Linked DNA regions of Homo sapiens: region 2 is linked to region 1. The links come from fine-mapping of genetic effects on gene expression. Tissue or cell type: whole blood. Region 1 holds a variant in brackets; the other region holds the start of a gene. All regions are shown on one strand. Distances are between the middles of the regions.

The links. PIP is the estimated chance that this variant, and not a neighbour inherited with it, causes the effect.
Region 2: it holds the start of COG6, and the variant in region 1 is the best candidate, but not a certain one, in a credible set for the expression of COG6 in whole blood (TOPMed, PIP 0.89).

The regions. Positions count from the first base shown.
Region 1 is chr13:39,736,669-39,744,668 of GRCh38, reverse strand. The region is part of intron 18 of COG6 (component of oligomeric golgi complex 6); the gene reads right to left. Among named protein-coding and RNA genes, the nearest start is that of MIR4305, 77 kb to the right of the region's middle. The variant C/T (reference allele first, on the strand shown) is at 4,039.
Region 2 is chr13:39,650,648-39,660,213 of GRCh38, reverse strand. It overlaps COG6 (component of oligomeric golgi complex 6), which reads right to left and starts at 4,552. Exons shown (of 19, transcript NM_020751.3): 1 at 4,335-4,552; 2 at 707-850. The coding sequence starts at 4,487. RefSeq lists a silencer at 4,239-4,288.

The DNA of each region.
Region 1 (8,000 bases):
ATTTTCACAATACTGATTCTTCCCATCTATGAGCATGAAATGTTCTTCCATTTGTTTGTGTCCTCTTTTATTTTGTTGAGCAGTGGTTTGTAGTTCTCCTTGAAGAGGTCCTTCACATCCCTTGTAAGTTGGATTCCTAGGTTATTTTATTCTCTTTGTAGCAATTGTGAATGGGAGTTCACTCATGATTTGGCTCTCTGTTTGTCTGTTATTGGTGTATAGGAATGCTTGTGATTTTTGCACATTGATTTTGTATCCTGAGACTTTGCTGAAGTTGCTTGTCAGCGTAAGGAGATTTTGGGCTGGGAAAATGGGGTTTTCTAAATATGCAATCATGTCATCTGCAAACAGGGATGATTTGACTTCCTCTTTTCCTAATTAAATATCCTTTATTTCTCTCTCTTGCCTGATTGCCCTGGCCAGAACTTCCAACACTATGTTGAATAGGAGTGGTGAGAGAGGGCATCCCTGTCTTGTGCCAGTTTTCAAAGGGAATGCTTCCAGTTTTTGCCTGTTCAGTATGATATTGGCTGTGGGTTTGTCATAAATAGCTCTTATTATTTTAAGACACATTCCATCAATACCTAGTTTATTGAGAGTTTTTAGCATGAAGGGCTGTGGAATTTTGTCGAAGGCCCTTTCTGCGTTTATTGAGATAATCATGTGGTTTTTGTCACTGGTTCTGTTTATATGATAGGTTATGTTTATTGATTTGCATAGGTTAAACCAGCCTTGCATCCCAGGGATGAAGCCAATTTGATCTTGGTGGGTAAGTTTTTTGATGTGCTGCTGGATTCAGTTTGCCAGTATTTTATTGAGGATTTTTGCATCGATGTTCATCAGGGATATTGGTCTAAAATTCTCTTTTTTTGTTGTGTCTCTGCCAGGCTTTGGTATCAGGATGATGCTGGCCTCATAACATGAGTTAGGGAGGATTCCCTCTTTTTCTATTGATTGGAAGTTTCAGAATGGATGGTACCAGCTCCTCTTTGTACCTCTGGTAGAATTCACCTGTGAATCCATCTGGTCCTGGACTTTTTTTTGGTTGGTAGGCTATTAATTATTGCCTCAATTTCAGAGCCTGTTATTGGTCTATTCAGAGATTCAACTTCTTCTTGGTTTAGTCTTGGGAGGGTGTATGTGTCAAGGAATTTATCCATTTCTTCTAGGTTTTCTAGATTATTTGCATAGAGGTGTTTATAGTATTCTCTGATGGTAGTTTGTATGTCTGTGGTATCAGTGGTGATATTCCCTTTATCATTTTTTATTGCATCTATTTGATTCTTCTCTCTTTTCTTCTTTATTAGTCTTGCTAGCCGTCTATCAATTTTGTTGATCCTTTCAAAAAACCAGCTCCTGGATTCATTGATTTTTTTAAGGGTTTTTTGTGTCTCTATGTCCTTCAGTTCTGCTCTGATCTTAGTCATTTCTTGCCTTCTGCTAGCTTTTCAATTTGTTTGCTCTTGCTTCTCTAGTTCTTTTAATTGTGATGTTAGGGTGTCGATTTTAGATCTTTCCTGCTTTCTCTTTTGGGCATTTAGTGCTATAAATTTCCCTCACACACTGCTTTAAATGTGTCCCAGAGATTCTGGTATGTTGTGTCTTTGTTCTCATTAGTTTCAGAGAACATCTTTATTTCTGCCTTGATTTCGTTATGTACCCAGTAGTCATTCAGGAGCAGGTTGTTCAGTTTCCATGTAGTTGTGCAGTTTTGAGTGAGTTTCTTAATCCTGAGTTCTAGTTTGATTGCACTGTGGTCTGAGAGACAGTTTGTTGTGATTTCTGTTCTTTTATATTTGCTGAGGAGTGCTTTACTTCGAACTATGTGGTCAATTTTGGAATAAGTGCGATGTGGTGCTGAGAAGAATGTATATTCTGTTGATTTGGGGTGGAGAGTTCTGTAGATGTCTATTAGGTCTGCTTGCTGTAGAGGTGAGTTCAAGTCCTGGATATCCTTGTTAACTTTCTGTCTCGTTGATCTGTCTAATGTTGACAGTGGGGTGTTAAAATCTCCCATTATTATTGTGTGGGAGTCTAAGCCTCTTTGTAGGTCTCTAAGGACTTGCTTTATGAATCTGGGTGCTCCTGTATTGGGTGCATATATATTTAGGATAGTTAGCTCTTCTTGTTGAATTGATCCCTTTACCATTATGTAATGGCCTTCTTTGTCTCTTTTGATCTTTGTTGGTTTAAAGTCTGTTCTATCAGAGACTAGGATTGCAACCCCTGCCTTTTTTTGTTTTCCATTTGCTTGGTAGATCTTCCTCCATCCCTTTATTTTGAGCCTATGTGTGTCTCTGCATGTGAGATGGGTCTCCTGAATACAGCACACTGATGTGTCTTGACTCTTTATCCAATTTGCCAGTCTGTGTCTTTTAATTGGGGCATTTAGCCCATTTACATTTAAGGTTAATATTGTTATGTGTGAATCTGATCCTGTCATTATGATGTTAGCTGGTTATTTTGCCCGTTAGTTGATGCTGTTTCTTCCCAGCATCAATGGTCTTTACAGTTCGGCATGTTTTTGCAGTGGCTGGTACCGGCTGTTCCTTTCCATGTTTAGTGCTTCCTTCAGGAGCTCTTATAAGGCAGGCCTGGTAGTAACAAAATCTCTCAGCATTTGCTTGTCTGTAAAGGATTTTATTTCTCCTTCACTTATGAAGCTTAGTTTGTCTGGATATGAAATTCTAGGTTGAAAATTCTTTTATTTAAGAATGTTGAATATTGACCCCACTGTCTTCTGGCTTGTAGAGTTTCTGCTGACAGATATGCGGTTAGTCTGATGGGCTTCCCTTTGTGGGTAACCCGACCTTTCTCTCTGGCTGCTCTTAACATTTTTTCCTTCATTTCAATCTTGGTGAATCTGACAATTATATGTCTTGGGGTTGCTTTTCTCGAGGAGTATCTTGGTGGTGTTCTTTGCATTTCCTGAATTTGAATGTTGGCCTGCCTTGCTAGGTTGGGGAAGTTCTCCTGGATAACATCCTGAAGAGTGTTTTCCAACTTGGTTCCACTCTCCCTGTCACTTTCAGGTACACCAATCAAACGTAGATTTGGTCTTTTCACATAGTCCCATATTTCTTGGAGGCTTTGTTTGTTTCTTTTTACTCTTTTTTCTCTAAACTTCTCTTCTTGATTTCATTAATTTGATCTTCAATCACTGATACCCTTTCTTCCACTTGATCAAATCGACTATTGAAGCTTGTGCATGCGTCACATAGTTCTCGTGCCATGGTTTTCAGCTCCATCAGGTCATTTAAGGTCTTCTCTACACTGTTAATTCTAGTTAGACATTCATCTAATCTTTTTTCAAGGTTTTTAGCTTCCTTGCAATGGGTTCGAACATCCTCCTTTAGCTCAGAGAAGTTTGTTATTATCGACTTTCTGAAGCCTACTTCTGTCAGCTTGTCAAAGTCATTCTCTATCCAGCTTTGTTCCATTGCTGGCGAGGAGCTGTGATCCTTTGAAGAAGAGAATCTCTAGATATGTAACTAAATGGAGATATTATTCTCATTTTAAAATATGTTCAAAGAAATTTACTGTATTCTAAATAATTATTTAAAACTGAACTGAGATAAGAAATGAACTGCTTACTTCCAAAAATCAGTGAGCTTGTCATTAATCTGTACTTTAGGATTTTGGTTGCCATAACAACATGATACAACTTTCATCATTACCATAAACCCAGCATTTCCAGAAATAGACTATTTCAACATCAGATTCTGTGATCACTAAAATTGAGTTTTATTTTAGCACCGCAGTTAAGAGTGCAATCAAATGTGCCACAGGAGAAAAAAAGGCGTTAAGCCTAAAAGCCCAAGAAGAAAAGACGATAATATCCTTATGAAAAACAGATTAGTTAAAATTTTGATTTTTCTTCATTACCATATAAATATAAGAAATGTCACAATGGGTCAAGACAATTTTTCATCCTAGGTCAGCTATGTGTCTATAAATGAAATTAAAGCATATTTTTTATGAGGCCAAGCTACATATTTCAGATAAGTGTCATCTATCATCATATATGCCAGACGTCTA[C/T]GAGCATTCTTTAAAAATAATAAAATAATCTCAACACAGAAAGAGCTAATAAAATACAGTATAGTCTAGTGTTGAAGAGAATAGGGTCTAGAATCAGAAATGTTGGATACAAATCATGGCTCTACTTCTTACAAATTTTTTGACCTTGATTCAATTACTTAGTCTTTCTAAACAATATCCTCTTTTAAATTCATCGAAAGAATTGAACTAAGTAATCTATTAAAGGATCACTCTGAGTGTTCAGTTTAGGCTGCAGGGCTTGGGTGGATGGTGGTGGAGAGGGCAAGTGTGAAAATGGAAAAGTTCAGAGGTTAATGTGATAAACCAGGCACAGATGATGCCACCTTGGGCCAGAGTGCTAATTATGGAGATGTTCAGAAGTATGAGTCCTCTCTCATATACTTCTTAGATACATATTTAATGAAATGATTCCATGAGAATTTTGATTAAAGTTGGAGTTATTTACAGATTAACCTGTTACACTAGTGAATTTTTCAGTCTATGAACAGAGTATGCCTATTTAGTCAGATCTTTTAGAATTTTCAATAAATTTTTATAAGTTTCATTATATAATTTTCCACGTATATTATCAAATTTATTTCTAGGAAACAATCCTGTGACTATTATAATAAAGTCTTTTACTTTTCATTGTTATAATTAGATATTTCTGGTATACAGAAGAGGTACTAATTTTAGTATGTTAATTTTGAATCTGGCCAAGTAACAACTCTATTTTAGTTCTATTAGTTTGTTAATTGCTTGCCTTTTTTGTTTTTGGTACAGACATTTAAAATTAATAAGTTTTATTAATTCTTTTCAATATTTATGACTCAATTCATTACAATGGCTAGAAGCTCCAAGGTAAACAGATGTGACAGTAACTATGCATATATTGTTTTGAACTGTAATGAAAAGGTTTCTAATGTTTCATCATTAAGTATTATGTTTGCTGTAGATTTTCAATATTCCAACATAGTGTCATGGTACTCTTCTCTAACTGGTTTATGTAGTAAATTCAAGTAAGATTTTTCTTTGTATGCTTTGGCTATAGTGTTTCCTCTCTTGATGCAATGGAATGTTTGATTTTTTTAAATGATTTTTTATATCTTTCAGGATTTTTACCTAAGACCTACTTAAGCATGACTTTTATCAATATAAAACATTTCCCTTTGACCTTTTATTGACTTACACCCTGAATTCAATTTTGCCTGTTAATATTGCAACTCTTTCTTTCTTTGTATGCCACTTTGTTGTAAATGGTCTCTTGTAAAGGGCATATAGGTGAACTGCGGTTTGCTTTTTTTTGAAATCTAAACTGACACTCTTGTATGTTAAAATAGGGTAGCTTAAGTTATCCACATTCATTGTAAAAACTGATTTAGCTTGGAATTTATAAAGAAAAACTTGCTATGACTTTTCTAGTTCTTGCTAGGAACTTTCTAGAACTAGAATCATCTAGTTTGAGTTCTTACGTTCATCTACTTAGGATTTCTTATTTCCTTTTTTGCTCATTCTTACATTAGTTTCATGAATGTTTTATCCGTACTTAAAAACAATGTGTATTTTCTATAGTTTGTGTGTAGTATTTTAAATATTTCTATTAGGTAAAGATTGGTAGTACTGTTCAACTATGAAGCATCATGTTAATTTCCTATTTTTTTGTATCAATTACTGAGAGGACTATGCAGAAATATCTAACTGTATTTCTTGATACAGCTACTCCTCATCAATCCTGTAAGCTTATATTTCATGTTATTTGCAGCTCTGCTATTAAATGCACAGATATACTACTATATTTACTTCATGTATTAATCCTATTATAAAATGTCACGTTTTATCTCTGGTATTATTATCTGTCTGTAGTCTAATTTTTCTTATAGTAATATAGCTACTCCAGCTTTAGGATTAGTGCTTGCATGGTATATCTTTTGTCATCCTTTTAAACTATCTCCACCTTTATATTTAAAATGGACTTTTTATAGATAGCAGATAGTTGTACCATGCTTTTTCATCCAGTCTAACAATTTTGTCTTTTAGTTCAAATCTGTAGTACTTTCACATTTAGTACAGTTACTTATTAGGCTGCAATTAAGTCTATCTTCCTGCTACTTGTTTCATACTTGTCTCATTTGTTCTTTTACCCTCCTTTTTCACCTTCTTTTGATACAATTACTTTTTAAAAATTCTATTTGTTCTTATCTATTGGTATGCTAAATAACTTTATTTGTTTCAATGGTTGTGGGAAGGTTTACAGTCTACCTCCAATCAATATTATATATTTCATGGATAACTTAATATCCTTACAATATTAAAACACCAAACTTCCACTTCCCTCCCACTGCATCTTTTGCACTTTTGTTGTCGTATGTTTTATGTGTTTAAAATTCCACAATTAGGAGAAAGATGAGCAAATAGAAGCCTCCAGAGATCGTCCCCCAAGCAGGAACGCCAAATCTATCCACACAAAAAATCACCTTCCTAAGAACCAAAAATTAGGTGAGCAATCATAGTACTTGGTTTTAACATCATATTAAGGAAAGAGGCACTAAAGAGGATAAGAAAGATAGTCTTGAATTGCCTACACCATCCTTCCCCTAATCCCTGGCACTGGCAGCATGGCGCGGAGAGAGAATTTATGTGCTTGTGGAAGGGAGAAAAAAGAGTGATTGTGGGACGTAGCACTGGAATTTAGTGCTGCCCTGTCACAGCAGAAAGCAACACCAGGCAGAACTCAGCCAGCATCCACAGAGGGAGCATTTAGACCAGCACTAGTCAGAAGGGAAGCCTCCATCCCAGCGGTCAGAACCAGAGTTCTGGCAAGCCCCACCACCATGGGATAAGGTGCTCTGGGATCTGAAATAAACTGAAGGGCAAGTTTTGGGCCATAAGGGCTCTAATTCCTGGGCAAGCTTCTGTGCTGTGCTGGGCTTAGAGCCAGTGGACTTGGGGTGCACGTGACCTAGTGAGACACCAGCTAGGGCAGCCACGGGAGTACTTGCATCACTCCTCCCGCAACCCCAGGTGATGCAGCTTGTAGCTCCGGGTAAGACTCCTTCCTTCTGCTTGAGACAGAAGCATGGGAAGGACTTTGTTCTGTATCTTGGATGCCAGCTCAGCCACCTCAGAACAGAACACCACATATAATAGATTCCTAAGGTTCCTGACTCCAGGCCCTGCATCCCAGACAGCTTCTCTGGACCCACTCGGAGACAAGGGAAACTCACTGCCCTGAAGGGAAGGACACAAGCCTCACTGATTCATCACTTGCGGACTGCAGAGCCCTTGGACCTTGAGGGAACATAGGCAGTAGTCATGCAGTGATCCCTGTGGGCCTTGGGCAAGACCCAATGCTATGCTTGCTTTGGATCTCACCCAGCGCAGTACCAGTGGTGGTGCCACGAAGAGGCATGTATCACCACTCCCCCAGCTCCGAGGCAGCTCAGTACAGAGAGGGAGACTCTATTTGCCTGGGGGAAAGTAAGGGAAGAGAACAAGAGTCTACACCTGGTAATCCAGGAAGTTCTCCTGGATCTCACCCAACACCACCAATGTAGTACCCTCATTGAGTCTGCAAGAGCCACAGGGCTTGAGGTGTTCCCTAATGTAGATATGGCTGCAGTGACCAAAGACTTAATTCACAAGTCCCCTTGAATACTTGGAAAGCCTTCATAAGAAGGACAGGTACAAGGCCCAGACTATGAAGACTATAACACCCACCTCTTCGATGCCCAGACACTGATGAACATCTACAAGCATCAAGACCATCCAGGAAAACATGACTTCCCCAAACAAATTAAACAAGGCACCAGTGACCAACCCTAGAGTGACAGACATATGTGACCTTTCAGACAGAGAAATCAAAATAGTTGTGCCGAGGAAGTGCAAAGAAATTCAAGATAACACAAAGAAGAAATTCAGAATCTTGTTTTTTGTTTTTTTGAAATGGAGTTTTGCTCTTCTTG
Region 2 (9,566 bases), 85 kb after region 1:
GAGTCCATCTCTAATGTAATTTTTTTTAAAAAAATCCTTTCCAAAGTATTAGTCTTCAGTCAATAAAAACCTACCAAGGTGTCAAAAACAACCTATTTTTATTGAACACTCATTGAAACCATGTGCAACACTTCCATAACTCACATAGAAATATATTAGTATTACAATGTATTAAAACAGCTAATAAAATATTACATAATAAAGATATAATAACATAAAATTTATTTTCACTCTGTGGTGAGTGGACTACACTCTCAAGTATGATGAATCATTATTAATACATTGAAGTTACTGATCTTAATCTGAAATTTTCATATTTTAGGATATAGTAAAAGTAACTCAATTCTAATTAATCTCCAGTAGAGAAGTTGTTATCCAAGAGAGGTTTATGCAATGAGGGGATATTTCTATTGGAAAGCCATTCAGGGAAATGTTAATTTTTTTGTTAAAAAAGCTAAAATTCCTAAGATAATCTTCTAGAACAATGTTAACTTTCTAAGAATTAATATTTGTGGAAGTCACAGATTCATAAATCACATTAATACAAATAAAGATCTAGATGCAGCAAGAGAAATTAGCTAAGCTTTCTATTTGGGCATAGTATACAAATAGCAAACATATCAACCTAATTCAAAAAAATACTTAGCACAGAGCCAGGCGTAATAGTAAGTTCTCAATATATGCTAAATGAAAAGAGTTTACATACCTCCTTCACTTCCTTGAAAATGCTTACAAATTCTTCATTGATGGCTAAACTTTTACGTTCAATATCTCCACGTAAATTTCTTCGAGTCCGCAGACTATTTTCAACAAAAAAGGTTGAAAGTGCCTTGAGAGCTTCTAACATCTCCTATACAATTGGTAACAGAAGACAGTTACTGGAACTAATTTTTAAATGGTTTCAAATCTCAAGACAAAATGTAATGAAATCATTTTCAAATGATTTATTTTCATTAACCAATCCGAAAAATATTGAATGACCTTCAAATTACTGAAGCATGCTTATTTCCAGAACACAAGAAGGGTATACTTACTTGTGTATAGTGTTATATATACAAGATTATTCACTGCAGAATTGTTGGGAATTGCAAAGACTAGAAATAATATAAATGTCCATCTAAAAGGGATTGGTTAAATAAATTATGATATACTCATTCACAAAAAAAAAATCTTTATGCACTTACGTAGTATAAGCTTTGAGATATGTTAAGTGAAACATCAAGGCATAGAAACAGTTGTAATACCAACAGTTAAAAACTTAAAAGGAATATATACATGCATACTTACTTGTGTATACCTAGTTGACACATATATAATGTGCACATTAACTATCTCTGGAATGATCTATTTAAGAATAAGTACTGGAATCCTCCAGGCTAGAAACTGAATAACTGGAAGTAGAACTTGGAGAAACTTAAAGGGGAAGGCCTCTCTGAGGTGACTTTGAACTGAGGCCTCAGTGTAGGCAACAGCCAGTCATGGGGACAAAGCCTTCCACAGACAGAGCAAACAATGAGTACAAAGACCCTAAAGTGGTAGAAGGAAGGCCACTATGACTGAAGTTATGAGAAATTATTACGATTTTAGGCAGGGGAGTAATGTAATACGATTTATATTTATAAAAGTTTATTCCAACTTTGTAAGGAAAATGAATGGTAAAGGGGTACAAGAAAGGAGGTAGGTAAGAGAAAAAACAAAAATAATCCCAGTATGGTTTGATAGTGGCTTAGACCAAGATGGCAGTAGTACAAATGAAAAAGAGATATTCCAAAATATGGCACGGTGGCTTACACCTGTAATCCCAGCAGTTTGGGAGGTCAAGTTGGGAGGATAGTTTGATGCCAGTTCAAGACCAGCCTGCATAACATAGTAAGACCCCTATCTCTATAAAAAAATCAAAAAATTAGCCAGGTATGGTGGCATGTGCCTGTAGACCCAGCTACCTGGGAGGCTGTGGCAGGAGGATCGCTTGAGCCAGCAAGATCAAGGCTACAGTAAGGCCATGTTCTCTCCATTGGACTCCAGCCTGGGCGACAGAGTGAGACTTGGTCTCAAAAAAAAAAAAAAGATATTCCAAAAATATTCTTCAAAGTAGAACCTATAAGATATGTTTGTGGATTTGCAGGAGATGTAAAAAAAAAAAAAAAAAAGTGACAAGAATCCAAAATTATTCATATGCTTCTTGCTTGACTGGGTAAATGGTGACGTTCTTTAGTGAGAGCGGAACCAGTTTAGGGAAAAATCAAGAGTTCCGCCCATGTTAAGTTCTATGACGTCAATCAGTATCCAATTGGAGGTATAGTATAGACAACTAATTCTACAAATCTGGAGCTCAGTAGATGTCAGAAACAGAGTTATAAATTTGAGAGTAATCATGCTTTTTGCTACTTAAAACCATGAAAGTACAAGATTTTTCTTACAGAGAAAACATGAATGGAAGAGAGAGCAGAGAACCAAGCCCAGGACATCCCCATTGTACACTAAATTCTGCAGATATACATTTCTACACCTCCACTACTGTATATTCTAGTAGGCTTACCCTTTCATGTTTCTATTTGTTATTTTGAAATATTGGCTGGATTGACAAAAACAGTAAAACTATTTATATAAATTCAATTTAATATTTCAGAGGAAGCAAAAATATGTTTACAACTATAAATACTTACTGTACAGAAAAAAAAAACCCATGAAGTGAAGCAGTTTCTTTAGACTATAGCCTTGAAATGTCCTAAGGTCTGGTTCAAAGAAGTAATCAGTAATGTTGAACGAATGAAATCACAGACTCAGATGCAAATTACAGTTCCACCAGTTACTAGTTATATGACAACCTAGCTGCACTCTCTCCATGCTTTATTTTCCTCATGGTAAAAAGAAGGTTATGTGGCCGGGCGCAGTGGTTCACGCCTTGTAATCCCAGCACTTTGGGAGGCTGAGGCGGGCAGATCACCTGAGGTCAGGAGTTCAAGACCAGCCTGACCAACATGGAGAAACCCCGTCTCTAATAAAAATACAAAATTAGCCAGGCGTGGTGGCACATGCCTGTAATCCCAGCTACTTGGGAGGCTGAGGCAGGAGAATCGCTTGAACCCGGGAGGCAGAGGTTGCAGTGAGCCGAGACTGCGCCCATTGCACTCCAGCTTGGGCAAAAAGAGCAAAACTCTGTCCAAAAAAGAAGGCCATGTTATCTATATCAGAGCAAGTAGCAGTCTTAAATGATATAATAAATATCAATATGAGACACATTAAACACTTCATAAATTTTATGATAAAATTAATATTTGTTAAGAAAGAGTAAGTGCCAGGCTCTTTGCAAAGGACTTTACCTGGAGTCTCTCACTGAGTCCTCAAATAACAACCATGAGAAACTTAACAGCAGGATTCCTAATTCCTAAACAGAAGCTGAGATTAGTGAAGGGACTTACTCAAATCATGATGCACACATTTAGTGGTTCTATCTAATAAGTGGTAGTCTCCAGAGCCCTAATTTCTTATTCATTACATTGCAATGTTATTTTTTTACATATCGGAATCAAATTGTTATCGACAGCTTATTTTCAGTTACCTACATATTCACCTATAAAACTCTCTAACTTTGACATATGTTCTTCTTTATGTTACACTGTCATGACCAATTTACCTAGCGACCCACAGAGACAGAAGAGATGGCTGGGTATGTGAGGAGCTGTAAAGTCCAACTTAAGTTTCAGGAGGTACTTGTGAGAGCATGCTGTCAGTTTATCTTCTAAAGAAATACAGCCTGAGCCCACAAATCATAGCGCTTGGCTCAACAAAAACTAGTAGATATGAGTTCATTTCAGCCACGGGCAAAGGTAGTTCTTTCGCGCTGCAAATTATTGCAATTGTTGTCACTTGTCCGTGGAAATGCACCCTTATCCCTACCACTGCTCTCTTGGTCTCCCGACCCCCATTTGCGCTACCTTATCTTGGAATCTGCTCTTTTGCATCTGTTTCATATCCAGTCTTGTGCTCTCCTCCACTCTCCCAGCTCACACAGCCAAACGCCTCCAGGGGTGTTTGGAGGACACTTCTCGAGGCACCACCGTTCACCAATCCCATCCAGAGAGCCTTGAAGGCACCTTTTCAGGTGGAGAGAACACCCAGGAAACCCCTTCGCTTTTCCGGAGGTTGCTGGGGCTCCCCCTTCTCACCGCCCCCGGCGCCCGCAGAGCAGCGGAGCCCGCAGGTCTGGGGTCACTCGCGGTCCCTCTGCTGCCGGGACGAGGGAGACCGCGGTGGGTCCCTGACAGACGCCGCCCCTGGCCCGGCTCAGCCCCGCAGGAACCTGTGACTCCGGCCCCGCCAGCCCCGGTTACCTTGTCGTTGTCCAGCCGCGTCTCCAGGATCTTATGCAGCTTGCGCGACAGCGGGTTGCAGGTCGTCGCCGAGGTCCCGCCTGCCCCATTGTTGAGGCCGTTGGCAGCCCCGGTCGCAGACACTGCGACCACTTCCCCGCTGCCCTCTGCCATAGCGCTGCGCGTCCCGCCCCCTGCTGCCACCTCAGCCAGGCAGGGACCACGGAGGCAGCGCGAGTATTGCGCATGTGCAAATCGGCCGCGCATGCGCATCGGCCCCGGAAGTCTTCGCCGGGTAACCCTGCTTGGGCTCTCAGAAGCGTGAGGGGCGGAGAAGATGTGGGGGGCGGGACAAGACCCTCAGGTAGAAGGAGAAAATTTATAGGATTAGAGAGGACTTTGGAATTATGGATCTGCGACCTTCAGAGCTAATTAGATGACAACCAAATGTAGTATGTAAAATACACCATGACTTGTGCCTGGCATATACATTCAATATAAGTTAACTGAAAGTTTAAATTACATTTGCCTTATCTGAATTCATTTTTTTGAAAATTATTTATTGAAGGCATAGTATGTGCCAGGTACTCTGGTAGGCATTGGAGAATCTACATTGTGTGTCTGAAACAGACAAAGCTGTTAATAGATGTTATTAGGTTGTGATGAGTGCTCAGGGGATGAAGTAGTACAGTGAAAGAAAATGGAGGGAAAGGCCCACTTCACTCAGGGAGGTTTGGAGAGGAGTTGACACTTAAACTGAGATTTGAAGGAGAATCAGAATGTGAGGAGAAATCATTCCCAGGCAGAAGAAAGTGTGTAAGTGTACAGGCCTCAAAACAAGATGAACTTGGCCCTGACACAAATGGACCAGAGCCCATGTAGCTGTAAAGTAATGGATAAAAATGTAACAAGTTGAAAAAACTTCCCGGGAAACTCTGGAAAACAAACATCATTGCTTTTTTTCTTTCTTTTCTCAGTTTTTAAAATTTGGATCAAAATAAAATCGCTGGGCTTCTGTGAATTATTTGTCAGAAACACTATTTGGCTCTTGTCATAAATTTTCCTTGTTTCATATATGTCTATGTACATAGTTATATTGTATATCAGACTTAAGGGAAAATTACCTATTACAGAGGTCACATAAAGAAAGCACTGACAAAACCACTCATCTCTACTCTAATGAAGAAGAGAAGGCCCAACTATCCAAAAGAAAAAAATATACAAAAAGCAGCAATATCTAGGTATGAATTCAACAAAAAATACAGAGAACCTAGATGAAGAAAACTTTAAAATGCTACTGGGAGAACATAAAACTTAAATCAATGAAAAAATATATTGTTCTCTTCAACAGGAAGACTCAATATTGTAAGATGTCTTTTCTCTTTCACAGATAAATTTAAGTTCAGTGTAACCAAAATTAAAATATCAAAGGTTTACCTAAGGTGTATATATCCAAATGAATTTGCATATATACAAAGCAATAATATAATGTAGAGCTTGCAAATATGTACAATTAAAAGGAATGACGATGATAACATGCCAAGTCAGGAGCGGTCATGAAATACCACATATTGTATGACCTCTTTATGTGAAATCTCCCAAATAGGTAAATCAATAGAGATAGAAAGTAGATGAGTGGTTCTGGGAAGAGGAGTGTTGGGAAGAGGGAATGGGGAGTGTCAGTTCATGGTACAGGTTAATTTTTGGGGAGATGAAAATACTCTAAAGCTAAATTGTGGTGATGGTTGCACAACTCTGTAAATATACTAAAAAACACTGAACTGTACACTTTAAATGAATGAATTGAATGGCATGCAAGTTTCATCTCAAATCTGTTTTTTAGGCCAGGTATGGTGGCTCACACCTGTATTCCCAGCACTTTGGGAGGCTTAGGCAGGGGGATCTCGAGTTCAGGAGTTAAAGACCAGCCTGGGCAACATAGCGAGACCCTGTCTCTACAAAAAAAAAAAAAAAAATACGAAAACTAGTCGAGTGTGGTGGCATGCCTGTGGTCCCAGCTACTTGGAAGGTTGAGGTGGGAGTATCACTTGAGCTCAAGCCTGCGGTAAGTCATAATCATGCCACTGCCCTCTACTCTAGCCTGGGTGATGGAGCAAGGCCCTATCTTAAAATTGAAAAAAAAAAAATAAAGCTGTTTATTTTAAAAAGTAAATTGGAGATAAATAGACAAAATGTTTAAGTAATAAAAAATACAAATTTATATTAATTTTTAAAATCTTTATTTAGATATAATTTACAGGCCATAAACTTCACCTATTAAAAGTATAAAATATGACAGCTTTTAGTTCATTTACAGAGTTGGCAAATATCACCATCATCTAATTTTAAGACATTTTCATTACTTTAAGAAGAAAACTGTACCCACTAGCACTCCCCATTTTCCCCTCTCTACCACCCTAGGAAACCACAAATCTGCTCTCTGTCTCTATAGATATGCCAGTTTGGACATTTCATATAAACAGAATTATACAATATGTAACATTTCATGCCTGACTTCTTTCACTTAGCATAATTTTTCAAGGTTCATCTATTTTGTAGCTTGTATCAGTGTTTCATTCCCTATTATTGCCAAATAATAATCCATTGTATGGATCTCCCATATTTTATTCATTCGTCAGATGGCTATTTAGGTAGTTTCAAATTTTTGGCTTTTATGAAAAATGTCTCTGTGAATTTTCATGTGAGAGTTTTTGTGTGGATGTATGTTTTCACTTTCCTTAGGAAGATACCTAGGAGTAGATTGTTCTTATGGTTAACTCTATGTTTAATGTTTTGAGAAACTGTCAAATAGTTTTCCGAAGTGACTGCCCCATTTTTCATTCCCACCAGCACTGTATGAGGGGCTCCAGTATTCTTCACATCCTGACTAACACTCATTATGGTCTGTCTTTTTTATCTTATCCATCCTACTCAGTGTGATATGATACCTCATTGAGATTTGGCTTTCCATTTCCTAGTGACTAGTGATATTGAGTTGTAAGAATTCTTTATATATTCTGGATACTAGTCCTAACAATTTATTGGAAAATATTTTTTCCTACTTTTGCTTGTCTTTTCACTTTCTCAATGGCATCCTTTGAAGCACAATTAATCTTAATTTGATGAGATACAACTTATCAATTTCCTTTTTTATTATTTGTGCTTTTGGTGCCTTATTCAAGAAATTATTACCCAACCTAGATCACAAAAATTTATTCCTGTGTTTTCTTCTATTACATTGGCACAAAAGTAATTGCAGGTTTTGCCATTGAAAGTAATGGCAAAAATCGCAATTACTTTTGCACAGGCCTAATAAAATTTTATAGTTTCAGCACTTATATTAAAGCCTATCTTGTACCTTGAGCTAATTTTTGTGTATGGATGTTAGGTAGGGATCCAGTTTTATTGTCTTAAATGTGGATATTCAGTTGTCTCCCACACCATTTGCTAAAAGGACTATTCTTTCTCCCATGTGAGCTTTTCTATAGATTGAGAAAAAGCCGATGATAAAATCCAATATCCATTCATGATTAAAGAAACAAGTAAACTCTTAGCAATTTGAATAAAAGGGGATTTCCTTAATTGGATTGAGAGTATATACAAAAAAAAACCCTATGACAAACATCACACCTAAGGAAATATTTAAAACTTTCTCCTTGACATCAAGAATAAGACAAAAACTATCCACTAACACTGCTATTCAATATTTCACTAGAAGCTCAAACCAGAATAATAAACTAAGAAAAAAGTCATAAAGATTAGAGAGAATTTTTAAAATTTACACTTTTTGATAGGTGATGCAATGTGTCCCTAGATAATCCAGAAGGATCTATAGAAAAAGTGTTAGAATTAAAATAATAACCTATTTCACATATTGTTTTCCAAAACTCCAAAAAGGACAGGATCTTGGAATTCAACTAGCTTGCAAAAGAAGTTGTGTGACTCTTTAGCACCTCATTGCAAAAATGTGTTTTTATGTTGGTCAGGACTTACTTCATCAATTACCGCTGCCTGTAAAGGTGATTAAAAATCCAAAATTAAAAAAGATATGGAGCCGGGTGTGGTGGCTCATGCCTGTAATCCCAGCTACTCAGGAGGCTGAGGCAGGAGAATCGCTTGAACCTGGGAGGCAGAGGTTGCAGTGAGCCAAGATTGCACCACTGCACTCCAGCCTGGATGGTAGAGCAAGACCCCTTCTTTAAAAAAAAAAAAAAAAAAAAAAAGAAGAAGAAAAGAAAAAGATACAGAGGCTGGGCACAGTGGTTTATACCTGTAATCCCAGCACTTTGGGAGATAGAGGCAGGAGGATCACTTGAGCCCAGGAATACGAGACTAGCCTGGGCAACATCAAGAGACCCCACTTCTATAGAAAATTTTAAAAATTAGCCAGTTGTGGTGGTGCATGTTTGTATCCCAGCTACTTGGGAGGCTGAAGTGGGAGGATCACTTGATCTCAGAAGGTTGAGGCTGCAGTGAGCCGTGATTGCACCACTGCACTCCAGCCTGGGTAACAGAGTGAGAATCTGTCACCAAAAAAAAAGAAAAAAGAAAGAGAGGGAGGGCTGGAGGCGGGTGTGGAGAAAAGAAAAGAAAGCAGGAGAGAAAAGAAGAAGGAAAGAAAAGGAGAAGGAAAGAAAGAAAATATTTGGGCTGGGCATGGTGGCTCACACCTCTAATCCTAGTACTTTTGGAGGCTGAGGCAGGCAGATAACTTGAGCCCAGGAGTTTGAGACCAGCCTAGGCAAGAGGGAGAAACCCTGTCACTTCAAAAATACAAAAATTTCGCCAAGCGTGGTATCGCACACACCTGTAGTCTCAGCTACTCAGGAGGTTGAGGTGGGAGGATTGCTTGAGCCTGGGAGGCGGAGGTTGCAGTGAGCCGAGATCATGCCACTGCACACCAGCCTGGTCGACAGAGTGAGACCTTATGTTTTAAAAAAAAAAAATTGATTCCAATGTTATTTAAGTTATTCTAGGATTCAGGATTTCTTAACTTTGGCACCATTGACATTTGGGGCTGCATATTTTGTTGTTGTTGGGAACTATTCTGTTCACTGTAGGATGTTTAGCAGCATTACTGGCCTCTACCTACTAAATGCCAGTAGCATCCTCCCCAGTTGGAACGATCAAAATGTCTCCAGACATTGCCAATGTCCCTGAGGGGCAAAATTGTCCGGGGTTGACAACCACTGTTCCAAGCCGTAAGTATTTTAGTTATCTGATATTGCTTAACATATTTCCCCAAAACTAGTA